Homo sapiens: one gene and its partner. The protein of the gene in region 2 interacts with the protein of the main gene of each other region in a pairwise test. Each region holds a gene or a part of one and is shown on either strand. Other genes may lie near its edges.

Evidence for each region.
Region 1: the proteins of TNKS1BP1 (region 2) and CNOT6L interact in binary tests that used the Homo sapiens proteins (3 or more experiments, as listed by UniProt).

What each region holds. Positions count from the first base shown.
Region 1 is NC_000004.12:77,738,044-77,747,668, forward strand, and holds part of CNOT6L (CCR4-NOT transcription complex subunit 6-like), read right to left. Parts: intron 6,833-9,625; coding exon 6,675-6,832; intron 4,277-6,674; coding exon of another isoform or gene 4,253-4,276; coding exon 4,098-4,252; intron 2,161-4,097; coding exon of another isoform or gene 2,065-2,160; intron 1-2,064. UniProt on the Homo sapiens protein: Has 3'-5' poly(A) exoribonuclease activity for synthetic poly(A) RNA substrate.
Region 2 is NC_000011.10:57,314,184-57,321,952, forward strand, and holds part of TNKS1BP1 (182 kDa tankyrase-1-binding protein), read right to left. Parts: intron 7,768-7,769; 5' UTR 7,703-7,767; coding exon 7,609-7,702; intron 6,530-7,608; coding exon 5,896-6,529; intron 3,705-5,895; coding exon 3,635-3,704; intron 1-3,634.

The DNA of each region.
Region 1 (9,625 bases), on a different chromosome or scaffold from region 2:
CCCTCCTTCCAAGCACAAAACTACCTGTGATAATAGAAGAAAAAAAAGCAAGGACTTGGCCTTACCTGGTACCTCTGAGAATGGAAGCAGGTTAGGAAGTACAGCAAGAACTAAGTGCCATGACAACCTAAGTTCCCAATCCTATGATAAGAGATTGCCTCTTCACAGTGCAATGATCACACTGTTCTAAATTGCTGTTTTCATCTTTCCCTTTCTCATTGACTTGAAATAAAGCATGATAAGGAGGTCAGAACTGCTAACCTCAGGAACAGCAAGTCTAGCATATAGGTCTGCTTTCATCTTCATATTTTCCCCCACTATTAAGTTGTGTATCTGGCTCCAAGACCCAATTCTACTTAATGGTTAAGTCTATAGGACAAAACATGGCAAAAAGAAATTTAAATTATGAGTCTAAAGCATGTATCTACGGCCAGGCGCGGTTGCTCACGCCTGTAATCCCAGCATTTTGGGCGGCCAAGGAGGGCAGATCACCTGAGGTCGGGAGTTTGAGACCAGCCTGACCAACATGGAGAAACCCTGTCTCTACTAAAAACACAAAATTAGTCAGGCATGGTGGCGCATGCCTGTAATCCCAGCTACTCAGGAGGCTAAGGCAGGAGAATTGCTTGAACCTGGGAGGCGGAGGTTGCAGTGGGCCAAGATCACGCCACTGCACTCCAGCCTGGGCAACAAGAGTGAAACTCCGTCTCAAAAAAAAAAAAAAAAAATGTATTTACAACTCAGTTTCTACATATACATTATATACATATAAGAAACATATGCATATGTATGAATGTATTTTATAAAATGCTTTGGAACGTAAATAATACTTGTTAAAAGACAAAGCAAAAGCTGAGATCTGGTATTTTATCACTCAAAGTTCTATTTTCTAGTATCTCTATGCATCTAACTCCCAAAAAATGATGTTCATAATGATGACCAAACAGGTGCTGCCAAATCCTGAAGTAGATTCTGAATCCCCCAAAACTAAACTAGAATAATGTGATTTAAAGAACAGTGTATTATATTCTAATTATCTGAATATTGGTAACTTGTGTCCTAGCCTTTACTAAACAATACTCTATCCTTTCATCATGATGGATTAGAGATTTTTATTATAGTATTTTGCTATAAATGGCAATTATGATAGTTTCCATTTATTGTTGCGTATTCTGTACCAGTTTTTCATGTATGATTAAACAGTCATCAGTGAAGATGAGGAATTATCAGATACTCTGATTACAGAAGAAAGAGACTGAGAGTAAGTACAGTGTTGACTACTCTTCCACAGTTATCTTTGTTAGTTTTGTAACCTCTACAAAAATGATCTTACAAGATAAGAATATACAAATGAAGAAACAGGTCCAGAAATGCTAAGTCTTTCAACATTATATAGCTAAATAAATAGAAGAAGCACCTGGCTTCAAAACTCACAGTCTTTTTTTGCCCTATATTTCCAGTCTGAAGAAAGAATAAAGGCAGGGTATAATACTTTAAATTCCAAATAGTTGGCACTGAATAGTCAGCTAAGACATGGATAAATATCTGGTACTGGGACAGAAGGTGGTTTTGTTCTACCTATAGGAGGTATATAGTCCTGTCATTCCAGGAAAGAAGTTGAAAAGAGGTACAATATACTGATGTATCACATTCAATCTGTTGCCAGATCCATGTTACTATTCAGGAAAAAAGAGTTGAGGAAGAAAAGAAAAACAGGTGACACATCTAAGTACTTCCTATGTGCTCATTACTTAACTAGTTCACAGCATTTTTAATAATTCAAGAATCAATTTGCAAATACCCAGATAACAGTTCTAACTGTTATTTCAAAGCCTTAACTACTTCTAGTAAATTGTTAAGGAATTTTAGATTTTTCCTCTCAAAACTGTGAGAGTAATAATAAAAATCTTCCATATTATCTTGAAAGAAACTATAGCAAATAGAAAAAGAGCCTGATGTTAGATGTCTCAAGTTTACTGGTGCATTTTTTTTTTAAGCTATGGTGTTTCAAGGGGATTTGTGTATGAACATAGGTAACAAATATCGTCAGGCACGGTGGCTTACGTCTGTAATCCCAGCACTGTGGGAGGCTGAGGCGGGTGGATTGCTTGGACCCAGGAGTTCAAAACCAGCCTAGGGCAACACAGCAAGACCCCATCTCTACAAAAAATACAAAAATTAGTTAGGTGTGGTGGCATGCACGTGTAGTCTCAGCTACTCAGGGTGCTGAGGTGACAGAATCACCTGAGCCTGGGGAGGTTGAGGCTGCAGTGAGCCATGATCGCCACTGCACTCCAGCCTGGGTGACAGAGTAAGACTCTGAGACCCTGTCTAAAAACAAAAACAAATGTCAAATTCAGGGCAATTTTTCTAAATGAGGTAATCTTATAAGAGGTATTAGTGATATCAAAAGCTCAAACAAGAAGGCTAAAGATTCAGTTTATTACAGTAGTTAAAAGCATGGACTATGAAATCAGACTGTGTAACTGGAACTAGTTATTGAACTTGTCTGTACCTTGGTTTCCTCATCTTTAAAAACAAGGAAATAGCTGTATAGCTGCCTGTAAGAGTTGCTTTAAAATTTGAACAAGACAACTAATATAAACAATTCGAAAAGGCTGACAGATGGCAAACACTCTGGAAGTACGGTCATATACCATATAACAAGATTTCAGTCAACAAGGGACTACATGCCGATGGTAGTCCCACAAGACTATAATGGAGCTGAAAAATTCCTATCACCCAGTGATGATGTAGGTGTCTTAACATCACAGCACAATACATTACCTTTTTTACGTCTAGATATGTTTAGACTCAAATGCCATTGTATTACAATTGTCTATTTACTACAGTAACATGCTGTACAGGTTTCTAGCCTGGGAACAACAGGCTATACCTTATAGCCTAGGTGTATAGTGCTGTACCATCTAGGTTTGTGTAAGTGCACTTCATGATGTTCCCACAACAACAAAATCACCTAATGATGCATTTCTCAGAACATATTCCCGTAGTTAAGAGATACGTAGTTTTAATAGAATTATTCTAAAATGCATAAAAAATTACCAAACCATTAGAAGAATTTAGTATATTCTGACCTCAAATACTACAAGGCTTTGTACTAATTATTAACCAAAATAAGAATATCTCTACTACAAATTCATGGAAAAGACAGGAAAGTAGGCATAGATAAATGGGAAGTGGACCAAATATCTTTCAAATTCATTGAATTTGTTTACTTAAAATAGCATGTCATGCTGGTAATATGCTTGGATCAATAAAAACAGATTGGCTTTGGTAAAATAGATGTAAAATGGGGAAATACTGGAAAACAGCTGTAAGCATGTATATGCTTATCCTGTAAGATGATTTCCTAACGTATGAAATCCAAACTATTAACCATGGGATTCAACCTCTATCAGATGTCACGTTTCATTTTCCATTGCCCTGTCTCAGTCAACCCTTTTAACTCTCTACCTCCATATGCTCTGTGCCTGCCTCTCTTATCTACCCAGGCAGACCTCTATCTTATATTACACCATATGATATTGCAATTGTCTTATATGCCTAGTTTTTCCTACTGGATTTGAGCTTTCAGTGAGATTAGGAACTATGTCTTGACTATCTTTGTGTCTGTTGTGTCTAGCACAGGACTTATCACAAAGCAAATGCTCAGTATACATTTAGTGAATAAATGATTTTAAAATGAATGATTCTCAAAAATCAATTATTAAAAAAAAATCACAGAAAAGAAACCCAGATCACTTATGGCCAACCTTAAAAGGTATCACTTTCTTTTTTTACACAAAAACTAATACTTTACTTCATGAAAATATGTTCTGAAATATGAGACCATTCAAGTCTGTATCTCTTAAAATGTTCAGTGTTATTTGGTAATAAAAGCATAAGGAATAATACAATAAATATCCTTATTTCGAATACACAGCCTGAGAAATGAAACATTAACAACAGTTTTAAGTTGCATAATACTTGTTTTCTAGCTTTCTGTTGATTTTATAGGGCAAAACCAAAGACAATTTTAAAGTGTAAGCATTTAAATAAATAAAAGTACACCATTGTGCTTTGTTTCCTTAACTTACTTTTCTGTTTTGAAGAATATTGCACAACCATCTACATGCTTTCTCTCCTGCTCAGACATGATTTTGGCACGTGACTTTGGAGAAAAAAATCCATCATATCCACGCTCCTTCAATGCTGGCAGAAAGAGAGTGAAGTATTGCTCTGTTTCCACTTCCTGAGATGAAAGAAAAGTTATCATCTATATGACAGAGGGAAAATGCTGATTAAGATATAAAAATGTTCAGCATTATGAGTAAGATGTAACTTAGTAAAAATAATTCACATAGCAAATATTATCTTACTATCTTACCTGATTGCTAGCAGCTGCTACTTGACAATGGCAGCTTTTTAAACATGAAAGAACCAGAAAGGTGACATGATTTTCTCATGCTCACACAGATAGTAACAGGAGTAGGACTACATCCCAAGGTCTCTTGATTCCCAATTTACAGTTCACTCCATTATACTTTACTTCCTCAAGACTGGCAACTAAACAAAGCAAGTTGGGTATATGATAGATTCTGTGATAGGGAATAGTAATTTATATATAAAAAGGTAATTTAAAAACTTGCATATCCTTCTGAACTATGGTGGAAAGAAATGATACCCAAGAGTGAGAAACGTAAAATCTATCCACAAAAAATTCTACTTTAAGAAATTTTTAAGTACCTAAATCGCAATCATCCAATGGCCTCTATTAATTTAATAATTATTAGTCTATTTTATTCTTTGACTCATAAAATATTTTAACAGGTCTTTCTAAATGAAATAAATATGAAGATAATTTATGTATGCAGATGTTTCTAACAGCATGAGTTTATGACAGCAAAAACCCATAAACAACTAAATGTGTCCAATGGTATGGGAAAAGCTACATCAATATACGTTCATATAATTAATGAGTTTTGAAGAATTTTAGTAACATGGAAAATCCATTAAGTACAATAAATAAGAATCAAAATGTATCTGTAAATATATTTTACTTAATGTATAGAAGAAAAATACTCCAGAAGTTTTAACACAACTATCTTATGACATGAAATTAGGTATTTCCCTCCATCATGCTTTATATTTTTTCAAAATTTTCAACTTCTCTAGAATGATCTCTTTTTAATACAGTATAGTATTATAGCATTGCTTTTATAATAAGACAATTTTCTTAAATTATGTTCTATCCTTCAAACTGCTATATTTAGGAGGGTGTGAGGCTGTTATCACTACAAATACTAAACCAAGAAGTAGACAAGAAACTACAATAGCCTGATTTTGTTTGCCGCCTCCTCTCCCCAATTCTCTGTTAGTCTCAGTATTTAGAAGAAATTTTATTTTAATTTTAAAAGATTTTTACTTTTTTCCCAAGCAACCTAAAAATAAATTATCAAGCTACTCTGTTACATAAAAAAATTTTTAATAATTTTTCCTCTCAGGCTATGATGAAAAGAATGTGTGAAATTGTAACACACAACTTTTTTTTTTTTTTTTTTTTTTTTTTTTTTTTTGAGACAGAATCTCGCTCTGCCATCCAGGCTGGAGTGCAGTGGTGCAATCTCTGATCACTGCAACCTCTGCTTCCTGGGTTCAAGCAATTCTCATGCCTCAGGCTCCCAAGTAGTTGGGATGACAGGTGCACGCCACCTTGCCTGGCTAATTTTTGCATTTTTAGTAGATATGGGGTTTCACCACGCTGGCCAGGCTGGTCTCAAACTCTTGACCCCAAGGGATCCACCCGCCTCGGCCTCCCAGAGTACTGGGACTATAGGCGTGAGCCACCATGCCCGGCCTGTAACACACAACATTTTTAAACACCTTTAAGAAATAGTAAGTTTCTGAGTTGATGAATATGTTAATTAGCCTCATTTGATCATTTAAAAAAATATATATGTATCAAAACATCACAATGTACCCCATAAACATATACAATTATTTGTCAATTAAAAATTTTTAAACCTTTAAGCACTTAATATGTTTTGAAAGTTGCTAAGAAAAAAGTTACTAAAAACTATTCAAACATCTTTTTGGCTAATCATTAGCTAAATTTTGAAGCAACAGAACACATTTCATGAAAAGATGCTGCTTCTTCAGTAAAGTTCAATTTATAAAGTGCTATAAAACAGAAGAATCTAAATTTCAGAGATGGTTTATAAAGTAAGGTAAGGCAAATATGCATGATTTATAGTACAATATATTAAAATATGTCTGTTTAAGGAATAACTGTGGGCAAGCTTTTTTTTTTAAAAAAAAACAGACTCCAATACAAGGTAAATTTATATTCCTAAAAGACTGGCAATCTTCTGTGGTTTTCTCTTTCAGCAATACCAATGATCATGAGGTGAATATTAACATGAACGGGTAAGATTATTTCCACTTAAGAAAACAGTAAATAAATATAAGTAGGTGGTTGTATTCAGTCAGCAAAATAGTTTCACTATGGAAATGTCTTAAATGCTTATTTAAATTGTCCATTATTTTTAAGAGGAGAGAAAACAATTCTTTTTGAGCTTTGGCTCTAAACACAGGATCTCTCCCAGTGGTCAGATCTTCTCTTATGTTTAAGTTCACCTTTTAAGTTAAAGACAGTTTAATTTCTATGGTGTTACCTGAAGACTAATGATATCTGCGTCACAGTTAACAATTTCTTCCATAATTCCCTTTTTCCTGTATTCCCAGTTTAATGCCCAGGATGGGCAATAGCCATATAGCTGCCGGGTAGCGTATTTATCACATAACACATTGTAACACATAACCGTGAATGATGCTAAGAAGTGGGAGAAAAAACAACAGACAAACGGGAGAAAATTAGGCAACTTTTTCTAAAGCAATATCATGTGTACACCTGCACAAGCACACACACATACGCCACATATCATCATTGTAAAATGCCTAGGCAAGATAAAGATTGCTAATCTACTAAAACATCATTGGAGTCTATCATACAAAATTTATTTTATTAAGTCTAGAATTAGACTAACAGCTTATATTTGAGAGTTTTAAGGAAATTTATTTTAATAAAAAATTTAAATTTTAAATCTGCTAATTTTTTGCTTATAACTTTGAGAAAAGCTTCTTTAAATGAGTGGAACAAAAGTAAACTGTAGTTGCATTTTAATTAAAGAACTCTAATCTCATTACCTCTTATTAACAAAATATCTAAGTATTTTTTGTGCCTCCTACTGCTATCATTACTTTGAAGCAGAAGAGTATGGACTAACAAAATTTAGTTGTAAGAGAATCGTTTTTGTCAATCAAATGTTCATTTCTGAAATAAAATGCTCATTTTTAAATGTCCTTTAACTATAAAAAGACTGTGAGCAAACTAATAGTAGAAGATGGTTTGCATCCTTGCTACTCAAAACTGTGCTGTGAAGACCAGCAGCATCAGTAATCAATCACCTGGGAATTTAGAAATGCAGAATCTGTGGCCCCATAAACACCTCTTTTGGACAGGATGTGCAATTTAACAAAATCTCCAGGTGATTCATATGCACTTGCATGTTAAAGTCTGAAAAGCCCTGATTTTTATCAGTAATTCTCCATCTTGGCTGCCTAGTAGAATCACTTTGTAGACCTTATAAAGAAAAATGCTGAAGTAAGGGTCTGACTCCAGACTAATTAAGTTGAAATATTAAGAGTCTAGCTATTCGTATTTTTAAAAAGGATCCCAGCATCCCAGGTGATTATAATGAACAGACATGGTTGAGAATCACTTATTTAAATAAGACGTGAGGAATTCAAAGTGAAGTGACACTTGATTGAAGTTGGTTCTGTTTCAGATGATGGAAAAGGTATTAAGAGAAACTCAGTTCAGTCCCCTGGGGGGTCTGACTGGTGACCATTTTGTACACTGGGAGCTAAATTTCAATTTGAGTTGACTTTTGTACTTTCTGAGTATTTATCTTGGAAATGACCCAGCATCATTTCCAAGCCACTACACTGTGAAGTAAGCACCCTGAATTTACCTTACTATGCTTCTCAGTATTTGAAATGTCATTTGGAAGTAAGGCGAAAGAGGCAGACTGCCATTTGCTTCATTCAGTTTTTTCCTAAGACTTTGTAAACTGAGATTTCATTAAAAAGATCAGAGATTGCAATTTTTATAATATAGCCAAAACTCTTTATATCCCTGCCAGTGCCTGAGAATGAACCAGCAATTTTTAAACAGAAGTAAAAACTACCTAAGTGTTATTACCACTCATCTCTTATACTCTGTTTCTATCTGGGACCTTTTTCATTATCTAGGCTTGATTTCCATATAGTTTATCATGTTTTTAAGCAATAAATCACCCTTAGCCACCACAAAGTATTATACACATCCCTCTATGCATCAGAAGTAAAATGCATTTTTAACAGTAACTTTTTTTCAGCACTCAGATCCTACTCAGAGAAGCACCATACCTCACAAGAAAAGTCCACACTAGTTTTTCAATAAAGAAAACCCAAGAACAGATTACTTTGAGAATTCAGCAATTAATGAAAATTTGTTTCTATTGTTCCTTTTCTTAATAGAAATGTAGCTGTGCAATATTAGAAAATCTTTTCTTCAAGATTATGTTCACTCATATTCAAAAGGGATTACTATGAAGAATTAGAAAATGGTGTTTTTAACATCAGAAGGGAATAATTAATTATACACTAGGAAAGGCCAAGTATAAAATAAATCTATCTAGCTTTAAGTTTTGTAGAAAACCTTAGGTACTCCTTTCACTTAAACACCAACATGCAACCTGATAGTAAAAATGTTATTCATAACACTGACACAATGCCTCTTAAAACAAGCTGATATTGCAGCTCTAGAGTGGGTTGGTTTTAAAATTATTACCTCTGAAAGACACAAAAATGTACTGCATATTATAATATTTTGTAGTGTTATTAAAATGCAAATAGAACCATGAAGAGGCTATATATCCCACATTTCCAAATACTAAAAAAAAAAAAGACTTGTTCTGAATCCTCTTAACTTAAAAAAAGCCCAAAACTCACAAACAAAAGGCCTTTATATTGCTCAAAATATATATAAAGTCTAATTGTGATTTACCCTTTAAAAATTAACTATCTCTTTTTTTGAGACAGGGTCTTGCTCTGTCTCCTAGGCTGGAGTGCAATGGCAAAATCTTGGCTCACTGTATGTAAACTCCGCATCCCAGGTTCAAGCGATTCTCGTGCCTCAGCCTCCTAAGTAGCTGGGATTACAGGAGTGCGCTACCACGACCTGGCTAATTTTTGTGTTTTTAGTAGAGATGGGGTTTCACCATGCTGGCCAAGCTAATCTTGAACTCCTGGCCTCAACAGATCTGCCCGCCTTGGCCTCCCAATGTGCTGGGATTACAGGCATGAGCCACAGTGCCCAGCCAAAATCTATTAATGTAGTACTATTCTGTGACTGGTTTAATCTTCATATCCAAACACTTAGAATTTTCATTTAATTTTAAAATGAAATTAGATATCATGAAAATTATTACTCTTGTGATTAAAAAAAAGACATTTCGAAAAACGGTAATTCATAACTTATTTTAAGTAGAATTCCCAAGCCTAAAATGTCAAATATGAAGAA
Region 2 (7,769 bases):
CATGTGAGGATCTCCTCAGAGGCCACAGTTCGGGGTCCATAACACCTGCTTTATAAAGGGAAAAGGAACATTGTGAATCTGGCTCTTGAAGCACCTCAGCATGTGGGAGTCGTGAGGGGAGAGAGGGTTTCGCGTCCAAGCAGGATTCGAGGTGCAGTGCAGCTACAGAGCAGCTCGGGGGAGTGGCTACAGCGTGCAGGGGGTGCCCCTCATGGCACAGAAGGTGCCAAGGAAGCAGGAAGGCTATGGGACCCAGGCAAAAGGCACTGGGGGGTGTGACAGCGCCTGGCTTGAGCCGTCCCAGCACTGCCTCTTACCAGCATGTGCCCTCCCTCACATATGGCAGACACTTGGTCTCTCTGAGCCTCAGCTTCCCCATCTGTACATTAGGGCTGGTGGCAACAATGCTCATCTCCCAGTTAGGTGAGGGTGAAGGGAAATGTGTGCACTGGCCCCTCGGCATAGGACTCATGGGATGATGGCGGCAGAGAGTGGGGAGGACGTGGAGAGAAGAGGGGGACAAACAAGGCACCAAGCACCTGGCACTCCACCTGTCCCCAGACAATGAAGTGACTCTGGCTCCATCTGACCTTTGCCCTCTGCAGAGGTCACACTTCCCTGGCCGCCCTCTCCCATGTCGTTAATTCTCCCACATCATCACCTACTAGGCCTGGGCAAAATAAAGGGTCCTGCTTGCTTCTCAAGGTCCCTTCTGTTCCCTCCATGCTCACTCCCCTCTGCAACGTTCTAATGTCAAAGCTCGTGCCCTTAAACTACAGCACCCACAATTCTTTCTTGTTATTGACCCTTACGCACCCATCATTCCTTGAAAACCATAACCGCTGCATCACTGCAACCCTCTCCATCATTGTTGTGATAGCTTACAGTCATCTCCATAGCCAGATGCGACCCTTCCAGCCTCTGGTTCGTTGACCTCCTCTTCCTCAGTGACTGTGCGACCCATCCTCTCAAGGTCACACCCTAGACCTCATCCTTACCAGTGGCTGCAACCTCTGCATCATCTCAATCCCAAGTATCCCACTTGCCCACCCCCACCGCCTATCTGACCGGCTCACTCTATTTCCCCAACGCCCTTATTTTCAGCCCCTCTCATAGCACAGCCCCTTAACCCTAATTCTTTCTCATTGTCCCCCACTCCCCTCATACCCTCACCTCTCTTCTTATCACCATTAACGTCACTTTTTACTCAACACTCAACTCCCTCATCTGCTTCATCATACTGTTTAACCTGTTTAAATACAGCTCTCCAATACAGCTGGGCCAATCCTAGCCCAGCACCTGAGTAGCTGCATGTGGCTGGATAAAAACACACAATCGTGACAGCTGGTCTCACTCCAGATTCACTGCTGACCTCAAGCCGGCCCTAGAGCTGCCCAGAATCCCACGGCACTCCCCCTGCCATTCACTCCATGACTCTCCCAGGCAATGTTTTAGCATCTTCTCCCGTCAGACCTCCACACCTCCCCCAATCCTCTCTCAGCTGATGGCCTTGCTTCCTGTTCCCTGAGAACACAGAGGCCACCAGCAGAGAACCCCCGACAACCCCCCCACCGCCACACACACACACACCACCTACTTCCTGCATGGGAGCCCAAGCACTCTGCCTCCCCTTCTGCTATCAGGCACTGTCCTCGCTTGGGGCTGAGGTCAATCCCTCCTCTCTCTCCTGCATCGATTTTTTTTTCCCTCTCTACTGGATCATTTCCATCAGCACACAAACTGCTCTAATTTCTTCTGTCTTGAAAAGCCAAAAAAGCAAACCAAAAAACCACTCTTGACCCCACATCACTCACTAGCTACCATCCATTTTCTTGAAAGCCCTGTCTATATTCACTATTAATATCCACAGTTCTTCTTGTCCCCTTCTCTCTTGAAACCACTCCAAACAGGCTTTCTCCTTTACCTTGCCACCTAACTACTCTCGTCAAGGTCACGGATGACCTCCCTGGAGCTGAATCCAATTCTCTGTGCTCATCTTACTTGACCTGTCAGTGGCATCTGACAGCTGATGGCGCCCTCCCCCAGTCCTGGAGGCTGTCTCCACTTGGTGGACTCTCTCACTGTCCTCCCAGTCTCCTTGGCTGTGCCTCTGGGCCCTCCCCTCCTGCACCATCCCCACTCTCAGTAATCTCAGCCAGTCTTCACAAGCATTCCTACTCTGACAATTCCCAAGTGTTCCTTTCAAATTTGCTCACTTCCCTTGAAGGCCAGACTCGACTACCCAACCATCCGCTTGACGTTTCCACATGGATGTCTGAAAACCATCTCAAATTCAACAAATCCACAAAGCAAACTCCTCCCATCTCCCCCGATCCTGCTTCACCCTTAGAAGTCCCCGTCTCGGCAACCATAAACTCATCCTTCCGGTTGCTCAGGCCAAAAGCCGTGGGGTCACCCTTGATTCTGTGCTCTCTATCTATCTGAAAGTCCTTTCCACCATGCCTTCAAATTCTATCCAGAACCAACCACTTCTCCCCATCTCCACCGTAGGCTACCTCCAGGGTCCAAGCCGTCATCATCTCTCACTTGGACTATTCCAACAGCCCCCTGACTGGTCCATGCTGCTGATCTTACCTCCCTGCAACTGATTCTTAATCCAGTGGGCCAGGTGACTCTTCACAACTAAGACAGCAGCATCCCATGCCTCTCCTGCAAACCCTTCAAATGGCCTGTTGCTCTCACTGAAGCCAAAGTCTTTCTAGAGGCCTTCGAGACTTGACACAATCCAACCCCCCAACCCGTTGGTCCTCACTACCACCTAACTCCTCTCTCACTGCCAGGCAGACATCCTGGCCTCCTTGCCAGGAAAGCACCAATGCCTTTGTACTTGCTGTGCCCTCTACCAAGAATGCTGCTCTCCAGACATGCACACAGCTCAGCCTCTGCCCTTCACAGTGACACCTTCCCTGACCACACTCGTCCCTGCACTCTCTACTCTACCTTCACAGCTATCTCCAACATCCAGCTCCTAACAGGCGCTCAGTCACTGCTTGCTGGATGGACAAATGAATCAAGTCAGATCTCCAGCTAGCAAGGGCTGTATGAGCAAAAAGGGCCATCCTGTACCTTGTTTACTCAAGAAAGCAGGCTGACCATCTTCAAGAACGGGAGTATGATGGGAAAATCTCAGCAAAAGGACTCACCCCTCTTCTGAACTCAGAAAAGGCAGCCCAGCCAGGGAAAGCATGGGAGGCAGACACAGTAGCTGCTGCCTCAGCCTAAGTTACTTACCCTTTGTGAGTACAGGTGCTCTCATCTCTCACATGGGACTAACCAGGTCTACTAGCCAGAGTTATCACAAGGATTGAGTTGGTTAACGTTCCCAGGACAGGCCCAGCACATAGTAGGGACTTAATCAATGGCAGTTGTTGTGGATACTATCATTACTGTTTATGATGAATGGCCTCATGGCCTTAACCACACCTAGCCACTTTGGTGATCAAGAGCACTGGCCCAGGAGTCGAAAAATCCCAGGGCCAGCCCTCCAGTGAGTCACTCTCCCCATGGGCCTCAGTTTCCCCATCTGAACTACAAGGAGTAGAAAAGATGATCTCATATGACCCTTCCAGCTCTAAAATACGTGATTCTGATTCATAACTGGAGGATAACTCACATCAGCAGGTAGCTCCGAGCTGGCTGCCTTAGCCAGGTCCCCGTTGAAGGCCAGGTCGGAAGGAAGGCTCCTGTGAGGGACGAGGACAGGAAATGGAAGCACGGAATGTTAGAGTCTGTCACAGAATGGAAAATGTGGGAGAGTCTCCCAGTGCAACTTTAACAGCACCCAAAGGTTAAACCCTCCTAGCCATTTACTCTTGAGCCCTGCCTGCAACTATTAGGGACACAGAATCTGTCCATTTTCCATTCGGCAAGTGCCCCAGAAAACAGTGCTTATTCCCTACCTGAGCATGAAGGGTTAAATTCCCCAGCTACTTTAGGAAAAGCATCCTGGATGCCCAGACCTCTCAACAGCTCCTAAAAAGATAACTCCTCTTTCCTTTAACCCATAAGGAGTTAAAGTTCTCCTCTAGCCAGGAAGAGTGCAGCTGGTCCTGCTGCCCTGCCAATACTTCTTGAAGAATTGCAGTGGGGGAGGGGAAGAGGAAAGAGTGATTTTCCAGGGTTGAAGTTGTTCTTAAGCCCTACTTGGAGTGAGGGAGAGAAGGAAGATGGCGGGTGGAACCCAGCCTGGGCAAGAGTGTGACCTCACAGCACCCTGGTCTGGGACAGGCAAAGGACTAGCTCTGGGGCCAAGGCTCCAGACACTTTCAGGTGAGAGAAGGGCAAGGCCAGAGGGCAGGGCAGGGCAGGGACCCTCAGCTTCCCGCTTAGCCCAGACCACACCAGCTCTTGCCTTCATAGCAGTAGGAAGAGAAAGGGAGCCTCTGAGCCCAGCAGAGCTGTTAAAGGCCCAAGGAGCCAGCCATACCTCAAGCTGGCTCTCCCAGCACTAAGGACAGCCTCTGTGCAGCTGATGGCTCCTGAGATGCCTCAGCCTCTTCCTCCAAAGTCCCGTGCCCAGCACCCCAAGAAGCACCTCCTGGCCAGCCTTGCTTTACACTAGTGGCAACTCTGGAGAAGCGTATCATATGCAAATATCTCCAACCAGCCAAAATCTCTGTGCAGACACTAGCTGGCCTGGCATCAAGATGTGTTCCTCTCGCAGGGCGCAGTGGCTCACGCCTGTAATCCCAGCACTTTGGGAGGCCGAGGCAGGCAGATCACGAGGTCAGGAGATCGAGACCATCCTGGCTAACACAGTGAAACCCCATCTCTACTAAAAATACAAAAAAATTATCCGGGTGTGGTGGCAGGCGCCTGTAGTCCCAGCTACTCGGGAGGCTGAGACAGGAGAATGGCGTGAACCCAGGAGGTGGAGCTTGCAGTGAGCCGAGATTGCGCCACTGCACTCCAGCCTGGATGACAGAGCGAGACTCCGTCTCAAAAAAAAAAAAAAAAAAAAAGATGTGTTCCTCTCTTACCTCTCCCATCAGATTCCACCTCACAGGCAGAGACTGTGCCCTACTCATCCTGACACACGCAGCCCCACCCCAGGACTGGCACACTGCTCTGACCACTGTAAGAGCTGGCACTTAAGAGCAGAGGATTTGGAATCAAACAAACATCTGTCTCTGCCTCTTAACTTGCCGAGACTATGGAGTCATTTTTGAGCCTCAGTTTCCTCATCTCTACAATGGATCTAATACTCCCTTGAACAAACAGGATGCCAACGAGGCAAAGTTTGGTGCCCAGCTCTCAGTATATAGAAACTAAACTTCTTGGCCGGGCGTGGTGGCTCATGCCTGTAATCTCAGCACTTTGGGAGGCCGAAGCAGGCAGATCACCTGAGGTCAGGAGTTCAAGACCAGCCTGGCCAACAGGGTGAAACCCCAACTCTACTAAAAATACAAAAAAATTAGCTGGGCGTGGTGGCCCACGCCTGTAATCCCAGCTACTCAGGAGGCTGAGGAAGGAGAATCACTTGAACCTGGGAGGCAGAGGTTGCAGTGAGCCGAGATCGCACCACTGCACTCCAGCCTGGGTGACAAGAGCAAAACACCATCTCAAAAAAAAAAAAAAAAAAAGTCTATTGTCTATTAAACTTCTATACTGTACATTTGAACTCTCTAACATAAACCTGCATCAACTCTGTAAAGAAAACTACAACTTTAAAAGCATACAGTAATGATAACACCATCTGCTGGGGAATGATTTGTGACCTAGATCGGGATCTGCCTGTACTCACAGCACACAACCAACCTACAGGTAAAAGTCACAACCCTATATGGGGCCATGCACTTGGTCCCCAGCCCCCACCCAATCCCACCCCACCTGACCTCCAGGCTGCCACAAAATATACAACCTCCCACCCTTCACCTCTCCTCAGGGGTCTTGCTGTGCTCTTCCCGGCACTCTGCTGGAGACTTTACTGGCCCCTCCTGGGACCATCCCCTGAAGAGGGTGCTGCCATCCTCATCCCTGGGAGCAGTGGTCGTGCCATAGGTCCTGGGGCCATATCGCGAGCTGCCATCGTGGTTAAAGGTGAGGCGGGAACCCCACAGGCGGTCGGGGCTGGCAAGGACCTCCTTCCGAGGCTGCTCCATCTTGGCCAGGATCTCTTCCACCGTGGTGGCCGCGAAGCGCTCTGAGGCTGGGCGGAAAGGGGCAGGGGCCTTCCGTACACCCCCTGGGGCTGCACATCGAGCTGGGGGTGTCAAAGGGGGTGGCTCCTCTTTCCCAGCCTCCTCTTTCCCAGTCTCTTGGGTGGCTTCTCCTCCAGTGGAGGCCTCAACCGCAGGCCTTGGTGCAAAGGGAAGGGGGCGCTTGCTGCCACCATAGGGCTGGGGTCCTGCCAGCATGTTCATCTTCCTGGCAGAAGGCAACTCAGCCAGGGGACCCCGGGGAGGCCGAGGCCCAACAGGCACCAGCAGGCTGGGTTTGGCAGGCAGGGCTGGCTTGGCAGGCAGGGCCCGGGGTTTGGGCTTGACAGGGGGTTTGGCCCGAGTGTCACCTACCAAAAGGAAAGGGTTGGTGGGGGAGCTGTCAGAAGAACCAGGAAGCAGAACTTCTTTGTTTCCTGTTCCACCTCATCTCCCACCCTCCGATTTAAGAATATTCACATCTTTCTAGGCACAAGTCATATGCCACCTCTTCCATGAAGCCTTCCTTGATTTTCTACACACATCCCCAAAGCATCTTCTCCCTTCTTCAAACTCCCAAAATGTTTTAGCCAATTCCCCTTTTAAGCTGAAGCTATTTAAGGACCCACCTGGCACCTTACTTCTTCCTGTACTGTATTTTGCCCCTAGCATAAGTTATAATTAAACAAAAGAATGAATGAACAAATGAGCCAATAAACAAATGCCTGCCTGTCCCTATCAAGCAGTCAGCCCCCCCATATTCCCAATCTAGTTTTTTCACCTTATGTGACACTCTTCTCTATCATCCATAGTAAACTTTCAATCTCAGCTGAGCTTCTCTATCCTGCCTCCAGGCTGCCTCCTCCCCCACCCACAGCACACTCCCAGGCCACCTCCCCACTGTCATCTGGTGTGTGACTGGGAATGCAAACTTACTATTGACCCAAGTCAAACAAAAGTAAATCTGCTATGGGAAGAAAAAAAAAAACAGGACCAGAAATCTACCTTCTATATAAAGCTAAATGACCTTGGAAGTACCCTCGTCCACAGTCCTCCTGATGGAATCCCGTACCTCCTACACATTTGGCTAAATAGAAGAAAAGAGTCTACACAAGGAGCCAGGAGGTCTGGGTTCAAACTCCCACTTGTACACTCCATTTTTCCCTGTGGGCCTCAGTTTTCCCCTCTGCAAAGCATGCAGCTTGATCCATATCATCTCAAAGGTCCCTGTCTGCTCTTACACCTGTTGGAGATTTATGATCCCAAACAGTTCTGAAGAGTCTCAAGAGAAGCTGAGAACCTTTCAAACTCATCCTGTACTGCCTTGGTACTCCTTCCCTATCTCAACAGAATCATCACTCAACCACCCCCCAAGACAGAAAGAGGGGGCAGCCTCTGTCCTTCCCACCCCCCTCCCAGCCACCTGGCTCCACCCTGCACCCATTGGTACCTGGCTCAGAGCCAGTAGGCACCAGCTCCTCCTCCATCTCCCGGGGCAGTGGGGAAGCCATGGCTGAGCTTTCCCTGAGAGTAGACACTTTCATCACATGCGGCAGACCCTCCTTGAGAGCGGGGAGGCAGAGAGGTATGAGCTGGGGTGGCTGCAGACCT